2 linked regions of the Homo sapiens genome follow. The protein of the gene in region 2 purifies or fractionates together with the protein of the main gene of each other region. This does not show direct contact. Each region holds a gene or a part of one and is shown on either strand. Other genes may lie near its edges.

Region 1 (7,493 bases), on a different chromosome or scaffold from region 2:
GACAGGGTCTCGATCTGTCACCCAGGCTGGAGTGCAGTGGCATAAACACAGGTCACCGCAGCATCGACCTCCCGGGCTTAAGTGATCCTCCTGCCTCCACCTCCCAGGTAGCTGGGACCACAGGCACATGGGTGCCACCACATCCTGCTTTTTTTTTTTTTTTTTTTTTGCTCAGGTTGGTCTTGAACTCCTGTACTCAAGCAATCCTCCCGCCTTGGCCTTCCAAAGGGCTGGGATTACAGGCGTGAGCCACTGCACCTGGCCTATCAAGCGCCTTAAATGCCACTAGTGCAACTAAGGATCTTACCATTTTTACCGTATTCTAATCAGTTTAACTGTCAAGAGCCACCTGTGGCTAGTGGCTACCAAATTGGACAGAGTGGTTTTAGAATTTTTACAAAGAAGCCAAAGTGAGAGCTCTGTATCTTTTTTGGTGGAAACATCAAAAAGCAGTGAGTGATGGAGGACGAATCCAGGAGACAGTGGAGGTGCTCATCTGTTTAGCCCAGGAACCCACTTACTGTGTATGTACTTTCTCAAACCTCTGAAAGCAATTCTAATGCACTGAGAAATGATTTACTCAAGACCAGGACAAGGTTAACCAAAGGGAGCTCGTGGTACAGCCCAACATTCTAGGCCACCCAGGCCAGAGTGAGCCAAGGTGACGTGTCTGTTGTGTGGCTCCAGAATTGAAAGCCTGAGATTTGACGTCTGCATCTTCACAGTCGACCTGTTAGAAGGGCCCCCCGTACACACACACTCCGCCCCAGGGAAAGCAAAAGCCACCGCACACAAATCTTTCAGAGGTGGCACCAGCAGGAAGGAGAGTGTTGTGCCTCATGGCAAAAGGAACATTTAACCGTTCAGAGAAGAGTCTGTTCAAACTCCAATTTTGGAGCAGAATGAATACAAGTTGAGAAAACGGAGTGGTTCTAGGTGAAGTGGACTCCTGAACGACTTTTCTAAAAAGATGTTGTGCTGAAGAGTATACTCAGTGTGGTCAGAAATGTCAGGAGAGTGCTTTCAATGGGTCCAGCTGCCACTTGTTTAAACAAGCCTGACTCCCCCCCTACCCCGCCCTTCCAGCTGGGGAGAATTTGCTCTGCAAGAAAAACAGATCTGCGCTGCCTCCAGCAGAGGCTGAATCCTAATCATCCTAGCTTACTATTACAGCAAAGCAACTTCCCATATCCTATCTCATCAGCTTTTAGGTTTAGGGTAGGCACTGTTAACTCCCTTTGACCAGAAACTGAGGCACAAGGACTCCCAGGTAATTACTGTCTCACATATAATGCTTCTGAACGTCACCCAGGTGACAGAGGTTTGTCACCAAAGGTGCTGTAAGGGAAAAAACGTCAAGCAACAATTCATTCCACACCGAGAGAAACTCTTGCCAATCCAAAGTACGCTTCTTAAGGCTGGATTCTCAGGCACATTTATTATAGTGAGTTTAGAGACCTAGAGTCCCACTCCAGCAAAGGTGCCCCCTAACCCGTGAATGCTGTGCATTATGGGATAAAATATACGTCACAGGGTGGTGGCTCACACTCCACCGTCAGTGTTTTGGGGACGAGAATTGAAGTGTGCAAAAGAACACTGGGTATTTCTAAGTAGAGGCAACACACACACACGTAAGACACCGATTTCCACTCCTGGCTGCAAAATGGAATCGCCTGGGAAGCATGACACTTCTAAGGCCTCGGGTGCTTATGTCATTGGTCTGGGGTCCGATCTGGGCACCCAGAGTTTTAAAAGCTCCCCAGGTGATTCTAATATGTAGCCTGCGTTGGGACCCACGGCCGTAAGAGACCTTCCAGGAATGAGAAAGCAAAAGTTGGATAACTTGGGAGAAGGGGGGCTTGGTAGGGTCTGGGTTACAGGCTGTTTCTTGGGTTATCTGATGTTTAAGATGCCTGAAGAATCAAAGAGTCTAAATGCCCGTGGCCTCTATTTTCTTATCTGTAAAAGGGCACAATGTTAAAGACTCTACCCTCCCCCAAAGGCAGGACGGTCCTGTTGGACGGATCAGGGGGTGAGAGGATAGGAGGGGGGCTAAGGGGAGGGGGATGAGAGGAAGGGGACTAGGGGAAGGGGAGGTGGACTAAGGGGAGGGAGACTAAGGGGAGAGGGGACTAAGGGGAGGGGGGCCTGCGGGAGGGGGGACTGGGGGAGGGGGATAAGGGGAGGGGGATAAGGGGAGGGGGACTAGAGACGAGGGGGACTGGGGGAGGGGAGGGGGACTAGGGGGAGGGGAGGGGGACGAGGGGGAGGGGAGGGGGACGAGGGGGAGGGGAGGGGGACGAGGGGGAGGGGGACGGGGGAGAAGGGCGAGGGGGCGGGGCGGGTGCCCTGGCTCGTGTGAGGGTAGGTGAACTGGGACTGAGGTGGGGACGAAGCCGCTCTCACCTGCGTCGTAGAAGGCGTCGAGCACGGCCGTCTCCCCGAAGTCCAGCTCCCCGAAGGGCACGGAGGTGAGGTGAGCGCCCTCGGCCTCGCAGGCCCGCAGCAGGCACTGCCGCGCCCCAGCCTCCGGGCCGCCGGCCGCGCCGCCCTGGGAGCTCTCACTGCGCACGTATACTGCCCGCAGAGCCCGCCGCGGCCCGCCCCCACTCTCGCCCTCGCCGCTGCCGCCTGCCGCGCCCTCCGCCGCCCCGTCGGGCTCCGCCGGCCCGGCCGCGCCCTCCACCCCCGGCGGCGGCGGGCACTGAGGGGACTCGCTCGCCGCCCCGAGGGCCCCGGCCGGAGCATTCCCACCGCCGCTCTCCATGTGCCCGCCTGCGCGCCCTTCCCCTGGGCGAGTGGCCAGCGGCTGCGATCCGCTAGGAGGCACAAGTTACAGCAGCCGCGCAGGCGGTCCCGGCACCTGCTCCTGAAGCGCGGGACGCTACGGGAATCGAGGGAACGGAGCGCACCGGGGACCCCGCGGCGGGCCGAAGACGGCAGTACCCCTAGGCTGCAGCCTGACGCTCAGGCCCCAAGGCCCCCAGCGCCCTTTGAAGGCCGGAGAGAAAGAGGCGGGGGCTGGGGACGTCAGGGCGAGCGAGGGGCGGGGAGGGGGCCGGGGAGGGCGGCGGGGCAGGAGCGGGGAGGGTGCCCCCTGCTGCCCCCTCCAGGCAGCGCCCGCCCGCAGCCGGGAGACGCCGAACACGGGAACAGGAATTGGGGTTGTTTTTTTTTTTGTTTTGTTTTTTGTTTTTTGTTTTGGCCATCCCTCTAGCCTGACCACCATTAGGAGCTCCAATTTCTTTTTTCTCAAAACAACTTGAAGCATTCGAGCAGGGTAAAAACTCTTTCAAAGCATCGGTTGGATGGAAATGTTCTATTCCCAACTCAATACAGACGTATTAATAGTTTTCACCCGGCATTGGGATGAACGGATGCTTCATCCCTGGTTGCCAAGCGCACGGCCCCCCGTGAGCCCTGTGCCGGAGGCGAGCTCGTCCTGGCTTTCGCCGTGACCTTGACAAGGCACAGGGAGGCACCAGCAACAAATTTTGTCTGGAAGATAGACTCCAAGTACGCTGCCTGCCTGACCTTTGAAAATGCCGTGAACTCAAAGGGGCCCTCACTCGGATCTTAGGCACTTCACGAATTTGGACACAAATATTAAAAGAAAATAGTGTTACCACTGAGGGTAATACCATTATTCTTATTTTTTATCTTTTTTGAGACAAAGTCTGTCGCTATCGCCCAGGCTGGAGTGCAGTGGCGCGATCTCTGCTCTAGGCTCACTACAACCTCTGCTTCTCGGGGCTCAAGCGATCCTCCCACCTCAGCCTTCAGAGTAGCTGGGATTACAGGCACGCACCTCACCATGTCCGGCTAATTTTTTTTTTTTTTTTTTTTTTTTTGTATTTTTAGTAGAGACGGGGTTTCACTATGTTGGCCAGGCTGCTGTCGAATTCCCGAGTTCAAGCGACCCGCCCGCCTCAGCCTCTCCAAGTGCTAGGATTACAGGCGTGAGCCACCGCACCTGGGTCATTGTTTTCTAAAAGATAGAATGCACCGGACGCTGTCACAGACTTGGAGGTTTTTCTTTTTTCAATTGCAATATTATTTTTAAACTTTATTTTTAATTGACAAATAATTGTATATATTTATGGAATACAATCTGTTGTTTTTCATTTAAGTTCAGGGGTATATGTGCAGGTTTGTTACACAGGTAAACTTGTGTCATTGGGGTGTGTTGTATAGATTATTTCATCACCCAGGCATTAAGGCTAGTACCCATTAGTTATTTTTCCTGATCCTCTCCTTCCTCCCACCCTTCACCCTCTGATAGGCCACAGTGTGTGTTGTTCCCCTCCATGTGTCCATGTGTTCTCATCATTTAGCTCCCACTTATGAGTAAGAACATGGGGCATTTGGTTTTCTGTTTCTGCATTTGTTTGCTAAGAATAATGGCCTCCAGCTCCATCCATGTTCCTGCAAAGGACATGATCTCATTCTTTTTTATGGCTGCATAGTATTCCATGGTGTGTATGTACCACATTTTCTTTATTCAATCTACCATTGATGAGCATTTAGATTGATTTCATGTCTTGGCTATTGTGAATAGTGCTGCAATGAACATACACATGTATGTGTCAACAGAGTGAACAAACAACCTACAGAATGGGAGAAAATTTTTGCAAACTATGCATCTGACAAAGGTCTAATATCCAGCATCTATAAATAACTTAAATTTACAAGAAAACAACAAACAGCCCCATTAAAAAGTGGGCAAAGGACATGAACAGACACTCTTCAAAAGAAGACATACATGTGGCCAACAATCATATGAAAGAAAAGCCTCAACATCACTGATCATTAGAGAAATGCAAATCAAAACCACAACTAGATACCATCTCACACCAGTCAGAATGGCTATTATTAAAAAGTCAAAAAATAACAGATGGTGGCGAGGCTGTGGAGGAAAAGAAACATTTATACACTGTTAGTGGGAGTGGAAATTAGTTCAACCATTGTGGAAGACAGTGTGGCAATTCCTCAAAGACCTTATAATGGAAATAACATTCCACCCAGCAATCCCGTTACTGGGCTTATACCCAAAGGTTTTCTCTTTTTTAATAACAGCTTTATTGAGCTATCATTCACATACCATACAATTCACCCATTTAGAGGGTACGATTCAATGAAAGTTTTTAGTATATCCACAGCGTTGTGCAGCTATGGCCATAATGAGTTATACAACATTTTCATCACCCCACGCCCCAGTGCAAAAATCAATCAGTACCCATTAGAAACCACTCTCCCTCCTTCCCAACATCCCCAGCTCTAGGTAACCATAAGTCTACCATCTCTGTAGATTTGCCTATTCTGGACATTTCATACAAATGGAATCATGCAATGTGTGGACATAGGTTTTTGAGCATATACCGGAGCAGGATTTCTGGGTCACATGCTAACTCTACAGTTTTTTTTAGAAAACGTTTTTATAGAGATGGGGTCTCACTATCTTGTTCAAGCTGGTCTCGAACTCCTGGCTCCTACCTCGGCCTCCCAAAGCACTGGGATTACAAGTGTGAGCCACCACACCAGGCTTACCTCTGTGTTTAACCTTTGGAGAAATTTCCACGGTTTTCCAAAGTGGCTGCACCGTTTTCCATTCTCACCAACCAGCAGTGTTCCAATTTCCCTGCATCTTCACCAACACTTGTTATTGTTTTTGGATTATGACCATCCTAGCAGGTGTGAAATTGTACTTCATGATGGTTTTGATTTCTATTTCCCTGATGGATAATGACACTGGGCATCTTGTCATGTGTTAATTATTGGCCATTTGTATAACAACTTCTGAGTGATGTCTATTCAAATCCTTTGCCCATTTTTTAATTGAGTATTTGTCTTTTTATTATTGAGTTGTAAGAATCCTCTACATATTGTGGATAGAAGTTCCTTATCAGATATGTGATTTGCAAATATCTTCTTCCATTCTGTGAGCTGTCTTTTTACTTTCTTGAGGGTGTCCTTGGCAGCACATCACAAGCCATTTTGACACGTGCAGGATAGGACTTATAAAACATTTCAGCTTCTTTGCATGCTTCAGTACTAATACAGTCCACCTCCCACCCCCAAAGAAAGCAGAAACTATCTGTATAAATCCATGAAGAAATCCTGCCCTCGTTCCAGCCCTGGCGGAAATCACAAGCAGCTTCCATGTGCATCCTCGTCTGTGGTCAACGAATGGAAAATGGGTTCTGAGGAAATCTGTGAGAACACACAGACCAGGCTGGGAAGCAGGAAAGCTCAGAAAAACTCTCCACACCTTGTTCTAAGACATTTTTTGTATGATGCTATAAAAGGACACATGTATTCTTTGTAACGTTGTAATGCATAATAATAGTAATTTTCCTAATATGCCTGTTCATCTGGAATTATTCCAGGGACTGCCACAGCCTTCAGAAGGGCAAAGATGCCCACTTAAAATCCCTTGCCAGCATCTTGCTGTTGTCCCCATCACAATCTTCCCGAATTCCTCTCAGCTCTCACTGGGGCCCTGCTGATGGAGTGAGACCCACGGGAGCTGTGAATTCTGGCTTGAATAAGAGCTTCCTCTAAATACAAACCCTGCTGAGTAAATGCTGAGAGCGCAGCATTTACCCAGCTAACGAGCACCTTCCCTGAAGTTGGGACACACAGCCCACCTTCTCATTGTGTGTAGCAATTTGCACACCTGAAGCATGCCCTGGCCCCTTCCCCCAATGTCCTTCCTACCTCCCCCCAGCCCCACTGAGAAGAAAATTGCAAAATGCTGGATTCGTTTCTTCTGTTTAATTGAACAACTGTCTTGTTCTTACCTTTGCCTTGCCCCTTATTAAGTACATGCCCTGGAAACAACTTTGTCCTAATGTAGAGGTATCATGGAAAGTTCTTCCATATATTTAATTTTTTTTTTTTTTTTTTTTTTTTGAGGCAGGGTCTTGCTTTGTCACCCAGGCAGGAGTGCAGTGGCGCGATCACAGCTCATTGCAGCCTCAACCTCCTGTGCTCAAACAATCCTCCTACCACATTTTTTTATTTTTTTTGTAGAGATGATGTCTCACTATGTTGCACAGACTGGTCTCCAAATCCTGGGCTCAAGCAATCCTCCTGCCTTGGCCTCTCAAAGTGTTGGGATTACAGACATGAGCCACCATGCCTGACCTCTTCCATATATTTAGAGGAAATCCCTTTGTGAGTGCTACCCACTATTTTTTTTTTTTTTTTCAGACAGGGCCTTGCTCTGTTGCCCAGGCTGGAGTGCAGTGGTGTGATCATGGCTTACTGCAGCCTTGACCTTCTGGTCTGGGCTCAAGCAATCCTCCCGCCTCAGCCTCCCAAGTACCTGGGGTCACAGGTGTATGCCACCATACCTGGCTAATTGTTTCTGTAGAGATGGGTTCTTGCCATGTTGGCCAGGCTGGTCTCAAACTCTCGGGCTCAAGCAATCCTCCCACCTCCGCCTCCCATAGTGCCGGGATTACAGTTGTGAGGTACTGTGCCTGGCCACA
Region 2 (7,021 bases):
GGGCAAGGTGGCTGGTACCTATAATCCCAGCACTTTGGGAGGCTGAGGTGGGTGGATCACTTGAGCTCAGAAGTTTGAGATCAGACTGGGCAACATGTTGAAACCCTGTCTTTACAGAAAATACAAAATTTAGCTGGGCATGGTGGTGTGCACCTGTAGTTGCAACTACTCAGGAGGCTGAGATGAAAAAAAGGATCCCTTGAGCCTGGGAGGTGGAGGTTGCAGTGAGCCAAGATTGCACTACTGCACTCCAGTTTGGGTGACAGAGTATGACCCTGTCTCAAAATAAATAAATAAATAAATAAAATCCCAAAGTGCTGGGATTACAGGCCACTGCGCCCAGCCATAACGTTTTTTTGAGTGCAAATTAAATCATTGTTTCTTGGCTACAATAATCCTCTAGAGAGGACCAGATTGTAACTTTTCCTCATATTTTTCGTTGGTGCCCTAATGGAATAGGTTCCTTTTTCTGTTCTAATGCACAAATTACTCTTATAATTGTCAAACTTATCTCCCCTCATTTTGCTTCCAAGGAAACTAAAATCATGGTATTCTGCAGATGACCAAAGATATGAATCTCCCTCATTTGGCATCGCACTGGGCCCGGATCTGTTACACTGCAAATGCCCTGCTGCTAAAACGATACAAACACCCTCCCTCTATGCCCAGGGACTATCACAGAAGAGAGAGTCTCGCTCCGTCACCCAGGCTGCAGTGCAATGGTATGATCTCGGCTCACTGCAAGTTCCGTCTCCTGGGTTCAAGTGATTCTCCTGCCTCAGCCTCCTGAGTAGCTGGGATTCCAGGCATCCACCAACACGCCCAGCTAATTTTTGTATTTTTATTAGAGATGGAGTTTCACCATATTGCCCAGGCTGGTCTCAAACTCCTGACCTTGTGATCCTCCTGCCTCGGCTTCCCAAAGTGCTGGGTTTACAGGTGTGAGCCACCGTGCCCAGCCTGTAGCAGATTTATATAAAAATGCAATATGCGGCTGGGTGCGGTGGCTCATTCCTGTAATCCCAGCACTTCGGGAGGCCAAGGCAGGCAGATTATGAGGTCAAGAGATTGAGACCATCCTGGCTAACACGGGGAAACTCCATCTCTACTAAAAATACAAAAAAAATTAGCCATGCATGGTGGCGGGCACCTGTAGTCCCAGCTACTCGGGAGGCTGAGGCAGGAGAATGGCGTGAACCCGGGAGGCAGAGCTTGCAGTGAGCCGAGATTGTGCCACTGCACTCCAGCCTGGGCAACAGAGCGCGACTCTGTCTCAAAAAAAAAAAAAAAGCAATACGCAGCGTAGGTCATTTGGCATGCCAGATGGGTTAGGATTAAATGTTAAAAAGGAATACGGAGAAAAGTAGAAGAAAATACAACTAAATATTTCACTGATCTCAGATTGAGGAAAGACTTTCTAGGTGTCAAAATAATGGCAATAAATCAGAAAGGAAAATATTGATAGATTTTTCACTACATAAAACTGTTTGCTGGCTGGGCGTGGTGGCTCACGCGTGTAATCCCAGCACTTCAGGAGGCCAAGGCAGGTGGATCACCTGAGGTTAGGAGTTTGAGACCAGCCTGGCCAAAATGGTGAAACTTCGTCTCTACTAAAAATACAAAAATTAGCTGGGCATGGTGGCAGGCGCCTGTAATCCCACCTACCCAGGAGGCTGAGGCAGGGGAATCACTTGAACCCGAGAGGCGGAGGTTGCAGTGAGCTGAGATCACATCATTGCATTCAAGCCTGGACGACAGAGCAAGACTCCGTCTCAAAAAAAAAAAAAAAAAAAGGCCAGGCGCGGTGGCTCACACCTGTAATCCCAGGACTTTGGGAGGCTGAGGCGGGCAGATCACAAGGTCAGGAGATCAAGACTATCCTGGCCAACATGGTGAAACCCTGTCTCTATTAAAAATACAAGGCCAGGCGCGGTGGTTTACGCCTGTAATCCCAGCACTTTGGGAGGCCGAGACGGGCGGATCACGAGGTCAGGAGATCAAGACCATCCTGGCTAACACAGTGAAACCCCGTCTCTACTAAAAATACAAAAAATTAGCCAGGCGTGGTGGCGGGCGCCTGTAGTCCCAGCTACTCGGGAGGCTGAGGCAGGAGAATGGCATGAACCCGGGAGGCGGAGCTTGCAGTGAGCCGAGATCACGCCACTGTACTCCAGCCTGGGCGACAGAGCGAGACTCTGTCTTAAAATAAATAAATAAATAAATAAAACCAAGCTGTGCTCTGACCACCTTGGGCACATGTCATTAGGACCCCCTGAGGCTGTGTCACAGATAAGTGTCCCCAAACTTGGCAAAATAAACTCTCTAAATTAACTGATACGTGTCTCAGCTATTCATAGTTCAAAAGTACATAGGCAAAAAATTGCAAACATTTCTAAGGAGAAATTTTCTAAAGTCTGCTCTAGTGAATAAAAGCTATTTGGCCAGGCACGCTGGCTCATACCTGTAATCCCAACACTTTGGGAGGCCAAGGTGGGTGTATTGCTTGGCCAAAGTTGGTTCAAGCCGTGAGGAGAAGGAGAAATTGGGTATGCCTCGTTATACCTGCCTCTCTTTTGGAATTCAGGAAAAGGTGACTAGCATTAACATGAACACAGACCTTAAGTTTGATAAGAAAGCTTTTTACAATCTATTCCCTCTGAAGCCTGCTACCCGGAGGCTTCATCTGCATGATAAAACTCTGGTCTCCACAACCCCTTACCGTCATAACCCAGACATTCCTTTCTATTGATTCCAGGTCTTTAGACCATAACTCTTTCAACCAATTGCCAATCAGAAAAAATTTAAATCTATCTATAACCTGGAATCATCCCCCTTTGAGTTGTCCCACCTTTCCAGATCGAACCAATGTACATCTTTTTTTTTTTTTTTTTTGAGACAGAGTCTCACTCTGTCGCCCAGGCTGGAGTGCAGTGGCACCATCTCGGCTCACTGCAAGCTCCACCTCCCGGGTTCATGCCATTCTCCTGCCTCAGCCTCCCGAGTAGCTGGGACTACAGGTGCCTGCCACCACACCCAGCTAATTTTTTGTATTTTTAGTAGAGACGAGGTTTTACTGTGTTAGCCAGGATGGTCTCGATCTCCTGACCTCGTGATCCACCCGTCTCGGCCTCCCAAAGTGCTGGGATTACAGGAGTGAGCCACCGCGCCCGGCCGAACCAGTGTACATCTTACAGGTACTGACTGATGTATTCTCTCTCCCTAAAATGTATAAAAGCAAGCTGTACCCTGCCAACCTTGAACATATGTCCTGAGGACCTCCTGAGGCTGTGTCACAGGTGCATCTTTAACCTTGGCAAAATAAACTTTCTAAATTGATTGAGACCTGTCTCAGATACTTTTGGGTTCACACATCCTACCTGAGATTTTCTCCATCTCTTCTAATAGCTTTTCCAAGTCCTTATTCAGATCTGACAGCATTTTCAGCATGTTGTCATAGTTTCTTTCCTCAGGGTCAGCATCATCCATCTAGGCAATGCACAGAAAGAAGCTGCAGTCAGACAGACCTACATTTCAAATCCAGCTCCACTGGTTATAACTCAGTGATTTCTCTAAGGAATTCTTTCCCCATCTCTCAGATTCAGACAATACCACGTACTCCACAGGGCTGTTGTGAAGGTTAAATGGGAACATGTCTAAAGGCCCCAGCATAGCATTCGGCACATATAAGTTGTCCTTCCCCTTTCTTCCATCTTTGCCATACAAACGTAGCTGAAGGCTGGAGTCATTAACACAGAAAACATCTTCATTATAATGAAAAAAGTCTGTCATAATGGTGACATGGAATTTTTTCTTGCAAAACCATATTGAGTACCCACTAAGATGCAAGCTATTGTGCTGATGTGTTTCAAAGATACAATTCCTGTACCTAAGGAATTTCTAGTGCAATATGGGAGTAAGTCACACACACCATATGACAAACCAGGATGTGACAGATGTCGAAGCAGTTAATGTAATAATTACAGACATCAAGCGATGGGAGCCTGGAGGCGGGTACGTTTAATTTTAAAATATGAAATGATTCATACATTAAAAAAAATTATAATCAACTTAACTTTCCAGAAGAATTCTCCTGGGCATTAGAGGCAGTGCCCCATAGAGACTGTCCTGGTTCTGGAATTGAGCTGCCTGGGTTCAAATCTTGGCGCTACCTCATATCAGCAGTGTTACTTTTGGCAACTTACACATCTTCTCGACAAATTTTTGGTAATTTTTTTGAGTTTTTTTTTTTTTTTTGAGACGAAGTTTTGCTCTTGTTGCCCAGGCTGGAGCACAGTGGCACGATCTCGGCTCACCACAACCTCTGCTTCCTGGGTTCAAGTGATTCTCCTGCCTCAGCCTCCTGAGTAGCTGGGATTACAGGCAAGTGCCACCACGCCCGGCTAATTTTGTATTTTTAGTAGAGATGGGGTTTCTCCATGTTGGCCAGGCTGGTCTCAAACTCCTGACCTCAGGTGATCTATCCACCTCGGCCTCCCAAAGTGCTGAGATTACAGATGTGAGCCACCACACCCAGCCAAGTTTTGTATTTTTTAAACGGGAATTATTAGTATTACCTATATCTTGTGGAGTTTTGTGAGGATTAATTGAAATAAATTATATACTGTTCAGCACAGTACCTACCGTAATGAGCACTTAATAAATCATATCCGTTGTTATTTAAAATGTTGAACAGTAATTACATCACTCCAGATCCTCTCCTCACCTTTATTAATATACATTAATTCATTCTGTTAATATTTGATGCTCACCTATTTATCTACAAGGCACTAGTAAGAAAAGAGAGAAATAGATAAATAATGTAAGAGCTGCCAGGGAACTTGTAACCTCATGAAGGTGAAGGAATGAGCCAGGTAAGCATAAAACAGGGAGGGATGGGCCACAGATGCTGCGGTATTGTTCCCACTGTACATGTGGGGAAAGCCTTCCTGGTCTTTACTTCAGAGTTAAGGGCCTCCACTCAGTTCTCCTGTGACTTCCTGGGCCTCCCTCATCACGGTGCCTCTTAGCTGGTATTGTGATTGTGGATTCCTCTACCTCCCCAACTAGACTGTGGGGTCCTGGAAAGCAGAGGCCATCTTTCCAATGAACTATTCCTAGTGTTCAGCTCAGAGCTAGGAAAACAGCAAGTGCTTAATAAATGTTGGCTGAATAAAGGAGTTGACCATTGTAAAGCTCTAATTCTGAAAGAAAATCATGATCGTGGCCAAGCGCGGAGGCTCATGCCTGTAATCCCAACACTTTGGGAGGCCGAGGTGGGTGGATCACCTGAGGTCAGGAGTTTGGGACCAGCCTGGCCAACATGGTGAAACCCAGTCTCTACTAAAAATATAAAAATTAGCCGGGTGTGGCGGCAGGTGCCTAATCCCAGCTACTGGGATTACTGGGGAGGCTGAGGCAGGAGAATCGCTTGAACCCGGGAGGTGGAGGTTGCAGTGAGCCGAGATTGTGCCATTGCACTCCAGTCTGGGTGACAAGAGCGAAACTTCATCTCAAAAAAAAAAAAGAAAGAAAATTATTATCTTTCCCCTCTTGCCGTCCTCCCTGTTAAGGGTAGAGATTCTGAGGGAGGAGCAAAGGGCCCTCCAGGAGGCCTGACAGGCAGATCTGAGAATGAGGGTGCAGGGTCAGGGTGTATGGTCTTTCGGGATCTGTAAAGGAGGTACTTCTGTGGGCATGGAGCCATTCCACGTGCAGGGACTCCGTCCTGCTTTTTGGTAAGTAGGAATAGTTTGCTAAGAGTAAGTGGGGAGGTACAGGCAGGTGGCAGGGCAGGGGGCTAATAGTGGGTGATGGGAGGAAGAAATGTCCAGAACACCTTCCTTAACCCTCTCCTATAGCTATTCCCTCTCCTTCCTTTAGCAGCCAGGCCTCACACGTTTGTCTGTCCTCCTCACTCCACTGTCATCTGGCATCTGTCTCTGACATTCACTGACAATGCTCTCACCAAAGTCATAACTGGCACACCCAGGGCACTTTCTGTCTTTCTTTTATTTAACATCTCTGCAGCACTGACATTTGGCCATTTTCTCCTGCTCAAAATTCTCTTCTCTTGATGTTTTAACCTTGTTCTCTCCAAACTCTGTCCACCTGTGGTAGTTCCTTCCCTGCTCTTTCTTGGCTCTCTCCTTTACTGGCTCTAATGGGTCAAGGAAGGTCCTTTTAGCCCCTTCTCTTCTCACTACACACTCTTTTTTTTTTTTTCTTGAGACGGAGTCTCACTCTGTTGCCCAGGCTGGAGTGCAGTGGCGTCATATCGGCTCACCACAACCTCCGCCTCCCAGGTTCAAGCAATTCTCCTGCCTCAGCCTTCCAAGTAGCTGGGATTACAGGTGCCCGCCACCATGCCCAGATAATTTTTGTATTTTTAGTAGAGACGGGGTTTCGCCATATTGGCCAGGCTGGTCTCAAACTCCTGAACCTCAGGTGATCCGCCTGCTTCGGCCTCCCAAGTCCTGGGATTACAGGTGTGAGCCACTATGCCTGGCCAGAACTTCGATTTTTATTCTGAATGAGATGAGGAAACACTGGAAAAATCTGACAAAGGTGATGTGATTTGAATAATGACTTAAAAGGATCACTCTGGCTTCTGTGTTGAGAATAGACTAAGGGGTGGAAAGCATGGAACAGGGACATCATTTAGGAGGCAGCTGCAAAACTCCAGGTAAGGAATGATGAGGCTTGGACCAGAGTGTTAGAAGTGGAGGTAGCCGCCAGGCTTAGTCGGTCATGCCTGTAATCCCAGCACTTTGGAAGGCAGAGGCGGGGGATCACAAGGTCAGGAGTTCGAGACCCGCCTGGCCAATATGGCAAAACCCCATCTCTACTAAAAATACAAAAATTAGCTGGGCATGGTGACGGGCGCCTGTAGTCCCAGCTACTCAGGAGGCTGAGGCAGAAGAATCCCTTGAACCCAGAAGGTGGAGGTTGCAGTGAGCCGAGATCATGCCACTGCACTCCAGCCTGGGTGACAGAGCAACACTCTGTTCCAAAAAAACAAAAA

Evidence for each region. The genes of interacting proteins can lie anywhere in the genome.
Region 1: the proteins of SYCE3 (region 2) and MAP3K15 purify together in Homo sapiens (affinity purification with mass spectrometry; 2 studies listed by BioGRID and IntAct, with this or other methods). This does not show direct contact.

Annotation. Positions count from the first base shown.
Region 1 is NC_000023.11:19,512,495-19,519,987, forward strand, and holds the start of MAP3K15 (mitogen-activated protein kinase kinase kinase 15), read right to left. Parts: upstream 3,015-7,493; 5' UTR 2,768-3,014; coding exon 2,407-2,767; intron 1-2,406. UniProt on the Homo sapiens protein: Serine/threonine kinase which acts as a component of the MAP kinase signal transduction pathway. Once activated, acts as an upstream activator of the p38 MAPK signal transduction cascade through the phosphorylation and activation of several MAP kinase kinases.
Region 2 is NC_000022.11:50,552,920-50,559,940, forward strand, and holds part of SYCE3 (synaptonemal complex central element protein 3), read right to left. Parts: intron 3,487-7,021; coding exon 3,378-3,486; intron 1-3,377. UniProt on the Homo sapiens protein: Major component of the transverse central element of synaptonemal complexes (SCS), formed between homologous chromosomes during meiotic prophase.